2 linked regions of the Homo sapiens genome follow. The protein of the gene in region 2 purifies or fractionates together with the protein of the main gene of each other region. This does not show direct contact. Each region holds a gene or a part of one and is shown on either strand. Other genes may lie near its edges. The genes, in order: SMC1A and MAU2.

What was found.
Region 1: the proteins of MAU2 (region 2) and SMC1A purify together in Homo sapiens (affinity purification with mass spectrometry; 2 studies listed by BioGRID and IntAct, with this or other methods). This does not show direct contact.

What each region holds. Positions count from the first base shown.
Region 1 is NC_000023.11:53,373,626-53,377,920, forward strand, and holds the end of SMC1A (structural maintenance of chromosomes protein 1A), read right to left. Parts: 3' UTR 524-4,295; downstream 1-523. UniProt on the Homo sapiens protein: Involved in chromosome cohesion during cell cycle and in DNA repair. Central component of cohesin complex. The cohesin complex is required for the cohesion of sister chromatids after DNA replication.
Region 2 is NC_000019.10:19,344,748-19,352,036, reverse strand, and holds part of MAU2 (MAU2 chromatid cohesion factor homolog), read right to left. Parts: intron 7,189-7,289; coding exon 7,111-7,188; intron 6,734-7,110; coding exon 6,668-6,733; intron 4,758-6,667; coding exon 4,671-4,757; coding exon of another isoform or gene 4,667-4,670; intron 3,149-4,666; coding exon 3,099-3,148; intron 2,883-3,098; coding exon 2,805-2,882; intron 2,713-2,804; coding exon 2,601-2,712; exon of another isoform or gene 2,596-2,600; intron 1-2,595. UniProt on the Homo sapiens protein: Plays an important role in the loading of the cohesin complex on to DNA. Forms a heterodimeric complex (also known as cohesin loading complex) with NIPBL/SCC2 which mediates the loading of the cohesin complex onto chromatin.

The sequences.
Region 1 (4,295 bases), on a different chromosome or scaffold from region 2:
CTAATACTTCCTATATGCTCACTTTGCCTCACCTAGACGTCCATTATATCATCTTCCACACTTAGTGTGCTTAACCACTTACTTATCTGAGTTCCCAATTAAGCCAAGAATTCCTGGAGGGCATGTATATCTAATTCCCAGAACCTAGCACAGGGCCTGACACATGACAGGAATTTAACATATGCCTGCTGAACAAATGGATGGAAAAATGATGCATGAGTGAATACAGGAAAGAGCAAATGAACTGGTAAATGCTTACATTAATGCATTAATGAATAAGTGAGTGAAGTTGTGAGTTAGTGCATATATAAGGTAATAAATAAATGAGTGGATGAATGAATGATAAAAATAAGTAAGTGAATGAAAGGTGCCCATGCCAGTGAGGCAGGAAAGGATGAGTGAATTCCCACCTCTGTGTCTTGCTTCAACCCCACCAGGAAGACCTCTTGCCCTGCTTTCCTGTTATCTAAACTGCACACCAGTGTTAACCTTTTAGATTCCAAGGAACAAAGACACACACAGGTTAGTGATGGGGATTTATTAAAGCATTCACAGGGAAATAAGGAAGACAAGAACAGCTACACAGGCAGCCTCATGGAAGAACAGAAACTTGAAAATGGTTCATGATCCAAAGCAGCTCTAGAGCCTGGCTTATCTTGTCACCCCCTCAGCTGCAGGCATCTGTTGCTCCCTTCTCTAGTGCTTCCCAAATTGGTGACTCAACTCCTTTCTGGCTGTATTTATACTCCTCCTACTGCTACTGACTAACTTCTTTCTGCCCCCCTCGATGCTAGCCCATGGCTTTTTCTGCCTCATGGGTCCTGCAGCTTCATGGCTCCCGGCGCTTCAGTTCCTATTAATCCATGGCTTTTCTGCATTGTAGCTCCTGCTGCCTCTTCCATTCCTGTTGCCATGTTGCCACATGGTTCTGGCTACCTTGTGGTTCTTGCAGTCTCATCGCTTCTACTGTCTCATGATCTTATCTATTCAAGCCTTCTGCTGCTTTGTGGATCTCATAGTCAGTTTTGTCTCACGGTTTCTGTTCCTCGTGGCTCCTATTGCTTCATGGCTTCTAGCCCATTGTTGCCTTGCTGCTTCATGGCTTCTGCCACCCTGTGGCTCCGTGATCTCATTATACAAATGTCTCATGACCTCTGCTTACTTATGGTTTCTGCAGCTTTCTCTTTGCTTTTGCTGTTTAGTTTCTGGCCACCCCTCATCCACCACCACTAATGCCTCATTAAATTCTAATTAACGTTCACTTCTTCTGAATAGCTCACATTCTGCCTCCCTGAAAGATCTGGTTGTTTCATACATTTGCCATTTGATACATGCCACCCCTGTAAGGTGAAGTCCTTATGCCAGTCCAGCTAACAGGCCACTGGCCAGCCTAGAGATTGGTTGCCCTTGAACCAGACACTATCCACATCTAGCTATCTGTGGCCAGGATTGTGAGGTCACATGGTACAGAGCATGGCAACTTATGCTAAGGAAACCCCTTAGAAGGGACTGCAAGCATGGCAGGTTTGCTAAGGGTTTCCAGAAGGGGGCAGTGTAATTGGCAACCATCTTGTTTGACCTGTCCAATACATTGACCTTCAAGGTTCAACCTAAGTCCCACCTTCTCCCTGACCACCTCTGCCTGTCCTGATCTACAATGGGATAGATCAAGATCAAGACTCCAGAGATGACATAGAAAGGAAACCTAGCTTCCATTTCTGGCTCCAACACTTCCTAGCAGTCGGACCTTAGGAAGTTAATTCCCCTCTGAGGACCTCAGAAGGGGTTTGGGCAGTCTTCCCTTACAAGTCTGACATTCTGGGTATCTCACTATAAGTTATTGTATAAGAGATGTGACTCTTACCTGGGAAAGCCCTCAAAAACATCTCTTGAGGTAGGAAAGAGGGAGTCAGAGTCCTGGCTTGGAAGAGCCTTACTGCACACTGGAGGTGCTTAGCCAAGATTTATTGAACTGGATGAATGAATCAATGGCTTGTGGAGGGGTGGGGAGTGGGGGGGCAGTGAGAGACCACACAGCACACAGAATGTCTAACTAACTTGAGGAATTCCAGTTGCTGAGGAGGATGTAAGCAGATTGTTTCAGAGATGGATAAGGAAAGAGATGACTGGGACAGGGTAGGAATCATGGCTATTCATGGGTACTCATTCTATCCTCTCAGTCACCCTCCACATCCAATAATCAGTCATTAAGTTATCATCTTACCTTAACAGTTCACACCTTAACACCTCCAATCTATTCCTACTGGCCTTTGCCCTAGTGCAGGCCTCCTGGTCTTTTTCCAGTCTCCTAGCTAATCTTGTCATCTCCATTCGCTCTCTCACAAATGGATTCACTCATGCATTCATTCATTCAAAAACTTTACTGGGTGCCTGTTTTGTGTCAGGCACTGTGCTTTTTTGCAGGGGCTATACTGGTAAGCAAAATATCCCCAGGCCCACCCTTGTGGTGCCTAAAGCTTATTCAGAGACAAAATAAGCAAATATAGTAGTGTAAGAAGCTGATTAACAGGGAAGCTACAGGCACGGGCACATACAGCATGAACATCTAACCTAATCTGTTTTCCATGCTGGTTGGCTAGCCAGCCAGAAACAGGTTAAGTTCACATCTGATCTGGAGTCCCCCTATTAAAAACCATTTCATGGCTCCCTCACTGCCTTCAAGCTATGGTTTCCAAATCTGGCTGTACCCTAGTCATGTGGTAACCTTTATAAGCATTCAAGATTCCAAATCTTCACCCCAGACTTAATGAATGTTTTAGGGGCCGGGGCCCAGAATGCCGTACCTGTTTGTGGTATACAGCCAGTTTGGGAACCACACTGTCCTACAAAACAAATCTGAATTCTGTAGCCATGCATTTACGACCCTCTTCCAATCTGGTTCCTCTCTACCTTTTCTTGCTGCTTTCCCCCCACCCCAGGAATCTTCATGCTTCAGTATTTGTTTTGCTGTTTCTTGCCTTCATGTCTTCATGCATACTGTTTCCAATATCTGGAAATTCCTTCTACTTCCTCAACTGGCTAATTCCTACCCGTCCCTCAAGACTCAGTTCAGGTATCACCACCTAGACTACAGGATGCCTTCTCTGAATCTTCACATAAGCTAGATGTTTTTCCTGTGCTCCTGTCAGTGTTGATCACACTGTATGGTTAATGGCTGTTTTACAAATGGTTTCCCCAACTAAACAGTGAGCTCCTCAAAGGCAGGATAAAGATTTGACTCATCTTTGTGTTCCTGGTGCACAACACTGTGATTTCCAGAGGGAAGTGCCCAGTTAAACTTAAGATACTGTTGTGGAGTACTCTTCAACTCCCTACAGCAAGGCTACTGCGTCCACAGTATAAGGGAGTCAAACTAGTTCCTCCAACAAGCCCTAGGGAATCTACTCGGATCCAGCTTGCTCTTGGAAACACTGTGGTGCCCAGCCTCCCGTGAGCATAGCCTTGACAACGGTTGCCCTGTGATGCCAGGAGGTGGTGGGGCACGACAGGAGAGAGCAGGGGGCAAGCACTAAATAGATCCGAGTGGAAGTCTAGGCTCTGCCACTAAACCAGTGGAATCTTGGACAAGTCACCTCACCTCCTGGATCCTCAGGACTTAAGTCCCCAAAGCTCCTTTGTAGCACATGTGTTCCTGTGTGCCAGGGCCTTAGCCTAAGGCATCTCATGTAATCCTTTTTATCCTGTGAGGTAGGGGTTAGTTATCTGGGTTATTATCCATGCTGGCTGAATCAGATTTCCAGAGGTGGGACCAGAGCAATTTATTTTTAAAGAGCTCCACATCCTTTGGATGTGGGGGTGCAAGCAGGGAACTGCTGCTTCTCATTATAAGCCCTTCTGTACTATTTTATTTTTTTACCTGTGTATATATTGCTTTACTTTTTAAAAAGGAAAAAGAAAAAGCTTTACAAACGATTCTGATGCGCAGCCAAGGTTGATAACCACCTGTACAGTGGAGAAAGCACTTGAATGACTTGGAAGACCTGGGTTCAAACCTTTTTGGGCCTCAGTTTCCTTATCTGTAAAGTGGGGAGAACAGCAAAGGTGACCTTTAAAGGGCTGTGAATGATCTAGATGCCAGCCAAATTGCTTCATATATATTTAATTTTCTCTTTGCTTCACTACTGCAAGGTAGGTGTTTATTATCTCCTTTTACAGATGTGGAAACTTAGGCTCAGAGGTGAAGTAACTTGCACAAGTTTCTACAGCTAGAATTTGAACCAGGTCTGACCCCCGAATTGTGCTCGTCCATAAAGGCCAGCATTTGCCAAATTATG
Region 2 (7,289 bases):
TTTCTACTAAAAATACAAAAATAAGCCAGGTGTGATGGTGCTCGACTGTAATCCCAGCTACTCGGGAGGCTGAGGCAGGAGAATCCGTGGAACCTGGGAGGTAGAGGTTGCAGTGAGCCGAGATCACACCACTACACTCCAGCCTGGGCAAGAGAGCAAGACTTCATCTCAAAAAAAAAAAAAAAAAAAAAAAAAAAAATTACCAAACAGGCTGACAAGCAAAACCTCCACGTGGGAGACGTGGGCAGTGGGAAGGGATGGATGACAGAGACATGCAATTTTTTTCTGTTTTGCTTCTCAGCCTTTTAATTATGAACATGTCATATTTTATAATCTAGAAAAATAACTTTTTTTTTTTGAGACGGATCTCACTGTGTTGTCCAGGCTGGAGTGCAGTAACATGATCACAGCTCACTGCAGCCTCAACCTCCTGGGCTCAAGTGATCCTCCCACCTCAGCCTCCCAATTAGCTGGGACCACAAGCATGAGTCCACACACCCAGCTAATTTTTTTGTTTGGTTTTTGTAGAGATGGGATCTCAGATCTACTATGTTGGTCAGGCTGATATTGAATTCCTGCGCTCAAATGATCCTTCCACCTCTGCCTCCCAAAGTGTTGGGATTACAGGCCTGAGCCACTGTGTCTGGCTGGAAAATATCTTTTTTTTTTTTTTAAGAGATAGCATCTCTAGGGCCAGGCACAGTGGGTCATGCTGTAATCTAGCACTTTGGGAGGCTGAAGTGGGTGGATCGCTTGAGCTCAGGAGTTCAAGACCAGTCTGGGTAACATGGAGACCCAGTCTCTACCAAAAATAAAAAAATTAGCTGAGCATGGTGGCACACACCTGTGGCCCCAGCTACTTGGGAGGCTGAGGTGGGAGGATCACTTGAGCCTACAGGGGGTGAAGGTTACCACGAGCTGAGCTGAGATCATGCCACTGCGCTCCAACTTGGGTGACGGAGTGAGACTCGGCCTCAAAAAATAAAATTAAATTAAAAAAAAAGAGGGTCTCACTAGGTTGCCCAGGCTGGTGGTCTTGAACTCCTGGGATCAAGGGATTCTCCCCCATCCACCTCCCAAAGGGATACAAGCAATGAGCCACTGTGCCTGGCCAAAAATATCTTTTTTTTTTTTTTTGAGATGGAGTCTTGCTGTGTTGCCCAGGCTGGAGTGCAGTGGTGGGATCTCGGCTCACTGCAAGCTCCGCCTTCCTGGTTCATGCCATTCTCCTGCCTCAGCCTCCCAAATAGCTGGGACTACAGGCGCCTGCCACCATGCCCGGCTAATTTTTTGTATTTTTAGTAGAGACGGGGTTTCACCGTGTTAGCCAGGATGGTCTCGATCTCCTGACCTTGTGATCTGCCCGCCTTGGCCTCCCAAAGTGCTGGGATTACAGGCGTGAGCCACCATGCCCGGCCTTTTTTTTTTTGAGATGGAGTCTTGCTCTCACCTAGGCTGGATGGAGTACAATGACACGACCTCGGCTTACTGCAACCTCTCTGCCTCCTGGGTTCAAGCAATTCTCCTGTCTCAGCCTCCAGAATAGCTGGGAGTACAGATGTGTGCCACCACACCTGGCTAATTTTTGTATTTTCAGTAGAGATGAGGTTTCACCATGTTGACCAGGCTGGTCTTGAACTCTTGACCTCAAGTGATCTGCCCACCTCAGCCTCCCAAAGTGCTGGGATTACAGGCATGAGCCACCGTGCCTGTCCCAAAAACATCTTTTTTTTTTTTTTCTGAGACAGAGTCTCACTCTGTTGCCCAGGCTGGAGTGCAGCGGCATGATCTCCGTTCAATGCAACCTCTGCCTCCTGGGTTCAAGTGATTCTCATGCCTCAGCCTCCCGAGTAGCTTGGATTACAGGCGTCCACCACCACGCCCCACTAATTTTTGTATTTTTAGTAAGAGACAGGGTTTCACTATGTTGGCTAGGCTGGTCTTGAACTCCTGACCTCAGGTGATCTGCCCGCCTTGGCCTCCCAAAGTGCTGGGATTACAGGCGTGAGCCATTGTGCCTGCCCAAAATATCTTCTTAAAAAAAAAAAAAAAAAAAAAAAATTCAAGACCTCGTGAGATCAGTGGGTGAGAGTAGGCGAGGAATTGACAGGAAGGACTGAGGCGGCCAGTCCCACCAGAGACTGGCTGACCTTGGGTGGGGACCAATCCCAGGGGCCACTTGTACCCTGAGAGGACACTGTGTTGGCCAAGGATGATATGTTTGGAAGTCCGGCTGAGAGGAGACACCTCTCTGCCCCTCAGGTGTCAACACATAGCATGGGGTGGCTGCGTCATCCCCAGTAGCTCAGGGCAGCTCCTTTGGTTCTGGCTTCAGCTCCCCTGAGCCCTGGGGCTCTGCCTGCCCAATGTCTGAGGCCACACCCATCAGGCCTCCTGCCTTCCCCCCACACCCTCTGTGGGTGCCCAGCTCCTCTGGCCCTGCCTGCCCAGGCTGTGGGAGTCAGGGCATCCACCTAGACGTGCTCTTCGAGGGGCATAGGATGAACAGTGCCATGCCACCCTTAGGGTGCTGGCCGGCTCCTGTCCCTCAGCCAAGCCCCACAGGCACCCAAGCGAGGGGCCCAGGCCAGGGCACTCACCCTGTGGTTTCCCAGCACATAGAAGATGTGGCCCAGAAGCACGAGGGAGCAGGCTGTGAGCCGGTTCAGGTCCTCAGCATTGGACATCTTCAGAGTTTCCCGCAGAAATCGCCTGACAAGGAGAACATGGACGCTGATAACTGCAGGACGGGGCCTGGGCTACCCTGAGCATGGCCCTCACGCCACCCTCTGCCCCACACTTACTTGGCCTCGTTGTAGCGTCCCTGGAAGAAGGAGAAGAGCCCACGCACATAGAAGGCGGCTGCTCGGAGGCAGTGCGAGCTGCAGGGAGAGTGCAGTATCACATGGGGTGGTGATTTTGAGAAGCAGGTTTACAAAACGGCAGTGGGCAGCTGGGGGCTATTTCTGAGAGCCCCCACTGCAGACTGTCTGTGAGGAGGGGTATGGGGTGTCAGGGTGCAAGGGGCAGTCAGGGGCCCCAACCAAAGAGCACGGGGAGCCTAGGCCGTGCGTGGAGTGGTGCCTGGAGCGGCTCACCTGACAGGGAAGCTGTGGTCCGGGTTGATCCTCTCCAGCAGACTGTAGAGCTGCGGGGGAAAGAGCCAGTCAGCACCATTCTGCATCTTCACAGGAGAAAGGTCCCCAAGACACACTGCAGTGCATGGGAATTTCTCTACACCCCCGTCGGGACTGTGGCCTCCAGGCTGAGCCTGGTGACTGACCAGCAAGAGCAGCCTCTGGTGAGAAGGGCCGGGGGCAAGATTTCCACACCCTCAGCCAGCCCTGCCTGTGCCACCCTGTCCTGCAGTAGGTGACAGGGGCCTGGGCGTCCAGAAGGCCTTTGTATGGTCAGAGTGGTGCTGAGGGGCTGGCCTGGCAGTGGGTAGGTTGGCAGGCTGGGGCCCGTGAGCCCTGTGGGCTGTGGGGGTGAGTGGGTGGGATTTCTCTGGAGGTGCAGGGACCCCGGGAGGCTCTGATGGGGGCGTGATCTGACTGATAATTTAGCTGCCCTCTAGCTGCAGAGGCACAGGGGAGCCAAACTCCTCCTCAACACTGCGAGCCCACGTATGGCATCGGATGACTAAGCCGGGGCTGGGCTTTCTTTTTCCTTTGAGACAGGTTCTTGCTCTGTCGCCCAGGCTGGAGTGCAGTGGCTGGATCATGGCTCACTGCAGCCCTCAATCTCCCTAGCTCAAGCAATCCTCCTGCCTCAGTCTCCCGAGTAGTTGGGACCACAGGCCTGCACCCCACCAAGTTTTTAAAAAATTTTTTTGTAGAAATGGGGGTCTCCCTATGTTGCCCAGGCTGGTCTTGAACTCCTGACCTCAAGTGATCCTCCTGCCTTGCTTCCCAAAGTGCTGGGATTACAGGTGTGAGCCAAGCACCTGGCCTGATACACTTTGGAGGTAGACCCCCAGAGGTGAAGGAGATACTAGAACTGAGGGACATCCTAGGGCTGAGGGGGATCCCAGGGCTGAGTGGGCATCCCAGGGCTGAGGAGGGAATCCCAGAGCTGAGGGGGATCCCAGGGCTGAGGAGGGGATCCCGGGGCTGAGGAGGGGATCCCGGGGCTGAGGGGGATCCCAGGGCTGAGTGGGGATCCCAGGGCTAAAAGGGACAGAAGAGGGAACCTAACTCTTATGCAAGCATTGGTTCAGAAGCGCCACGTGAGGGCAACCCTGGGCATCCCCACCCAACACTGCAGCCAGTGAGTGCCCCTGATCCTGCAGGGGCATCAGCACAACCTGGGGACAAGGTGCTCTGGCTGCTGCCCCTTAGGACTGAGCCTCAATGCCTGGCCGACATCCTAGAGCAGACAGCTTGGGCTATAAGACCTTGTCTGTGTGATTCATACAGCTTGGTTTGTTTGTGATAAAGAGAAGTGTTCTGTGGCTATGGGAATGTTTTTGTCCCAGACCTGGCCTCCCCCGGCCATAGCCCGATTCACCTCTGGGTCGCCTTGTGTGTCTGTGTCGGGTGCCGCCCATCCCTCAAAAGGTGAACACCCTGGGGTCTGCTGAGATGTGCTGGTGCCCAGGACAACCCCCTGGTTCCCCAAAAAGAAGAGAACAGAGAGAAAGGATACCGAACATGAAGCATGTCACCTACTACCTCTTGGTGTCTATTTCCTTCCCGTATATACACACTCGCCAGGTTGGTGACGATGAAGGCCCACAGCTCCTGGTGGTTGGTGAGCTGGAATGGGAGGCGGGGACATTAGGGGGCTGGGTCGGGTGCTGTGACCCATGTGGCAGTGTCAGAGCACCCACAATCTCCACGGAGACTACTTTGGAAAAGACTTGTTCTTTTCATTTCAAACACACTTGTTTTGCCTCCTAAGCTCAAGGATAACACAGCTATTACTTCTTCTCATTATAAAACCATCATCTGCGTTACGGGGCAGTTAGAGAACACAGAAGAGGAAAACCAGCCACCCCAATCCTACCCTCAGAACATGTCGGGTTTTGGTCCATTTTCCACTGTCTCTCAGGACTGAGACCTGGTGGACCCTTCCTCCAGGCCACAGCCAGCAACCTGTGGGACCCAGGTGTCCACTGCCATCAAGGCATATGCTGGTCCTAGGCGGGGGTCACTCTTCATAGGGGGAAGTGGGGAAGAGGGGAGCTGTTGTCCCACAGGGGGCCAGCACAGGCCCCGCTCCAGGTAGGTGATGCTGTGTCAGAGACCAGAAATGCTGCTGATGACAGGTGGTGGATGGGCCATGGTCCCTGGCTCTTCTTGGCAAATGAGATCGTTCGTCAAGAGAGGGTCCAATCTATGTAGCTCAAGCCCTGCTCAGACCCTGGTTCCCAGTGGGGCTGGGCAAGAGGTGGAGTGAGCCCAGGAAGCACAGACCCCACCTGCACAGATCCCCTCCTGGCACACACCCAGGAGGCCCAGAGGATCTTCCGAATCAAGCACAGATGCTCTGAGACGTAGCAAGGTGGGAGATGTTTGTTTCAGGGCCACAGGAGGCGTGTGTGTTTGGGGTTAGGGGTGTTGGGGTTGCATCCTGGCTCCATCACTCCTGGGTGGGCCATGAAAAAGAGGCTCTCTTTTGGCCTCGGGGTGAGGACTCCTTAGGGTACATGGCCTTGGGAACTTTGACGCGGAACCAAACCAGCAATAGCAACCACTTGTGGGGAGTGAGACGGAGACGGAGATGGCAGGATGGCAGGGCCACGAGGAGGGTCCTGGCCCTGCTGCAGTCAGAGTGAGCCAGGGTCCTGGGAGCGAGGTGAGGAGGCAGAGGAGTGGGTGCTGAGTCAGCCCTTCCCTCCCAAGCATGCTGTCTGCATGTCAGGGCTCCTGTGCATCTCTGAGGCCAGTGGCGGGGGTGGCAGCACCCACAGGCCTGCGGGGTGCCGTGGAATGGGAACCCTGTCCAACAGTCAGGGCGCACACAGGACTCCCTGGTGACCTTGCCCGAGTGGCAGACAGAGCAGCCTCTGCTCCCTGACACCTCTCCTCAGGGCCCTTCCTGGCACCACCAGGAAAAAGGTGTCCACAGCCTCCATTTCCTGTGAGGAGGTTGAGGCTGAGGTGGGGACACAATGGTCCAGCCCTGGGCTGGGGCGCTCCGTGAGGATGTGGCACCAGCCTTCTTCCAGGGCCTGGCGGGGCCCCCGTCTAAGGCCAGGAGCCTGGGGTGCTGCTTCACCCTCTCCGGCCCAGCAGGACCAAGAGTCCTCCTCTGTCCAAAGAGCACCTGGGAGATGGCCCAGCTCCACCACTCCCCATGGGAGCCCTGAACCCAGGATGGCTCTGAGTTGTCAGCTGACACTTGAGCCAATCCAGCCTTGGGGGTGGGTGCCGCAAAAGTTCCCACTCAGGCATGAAAGTGGTGTCCCCGGACGCGTCGCACCTCTCCCTCACGTCTGCCCTTGGGTCAGCTCAGGAAGCCCCTGGCCCCATAGCTGTCCCTTATCCAGATAAACAGCGCGTCACTGCCAAGGCTGGCATGGGCTGACTACTGTGCATTGCCTCTGGGGCTGCGGCTTTGCATAGCTGACCTAGCGCGACTGCTGTCCTCATCACAGACCACGCCCGACTCCTTACTCAGAAGTGTGGCCCGCCCCGAGCAGCAAGGAGGGCCGGCACCTTACCCGCAGGGCCGTGGTGAACTGGGCTTCCGCGTTGTCCATGCAGTTGACAGAGACACAGTACAGGCCCTGGAAGAAGGTGGTGTTGTCATCAGGGCCGGCCCCTGGGGAGGGGGCTCAGATCAGAGACACGTGGTGTGCCCGGGGCCTGCACGGCTGCCCTGGAGGAGTATGACAATGGCTCTACCGAGCCAGCTGCAAGGCAGGTAATATGCTCACTGTCCCCACCTTTCAGACCCAAGCCAATGTGGGGTGGGACAAGATGCTCACTGGGAGCATTCCGGATCGTGCCTGGGAAGGTTATATGATTACCTATGGGAACATTCCGGATTCTGATTAGGGTGCTGTCAGGGGGTCCTTCACTGGGAATGTTCTGGATCTGGTTAGGTACTTACTTACTGAGAACATTCTGGATTCTCCCGGGGTGTTGTCACAGGGTTACTCACCAGCAATGTGTGCAGCTGTGCTGCATGGTTGGAGAAGAGCCGGGGGGACTGCTGGCACAGCTGGCAGACCTGGGAGATCTGCCGGGAGAGAGTGTACTGCCATCACAGGACTGCAACCTGGGACCTGGCGTCTGAGCAGCAATGGAGAGACCCCATAGCTGGTGGGTGAGCCCATGTCC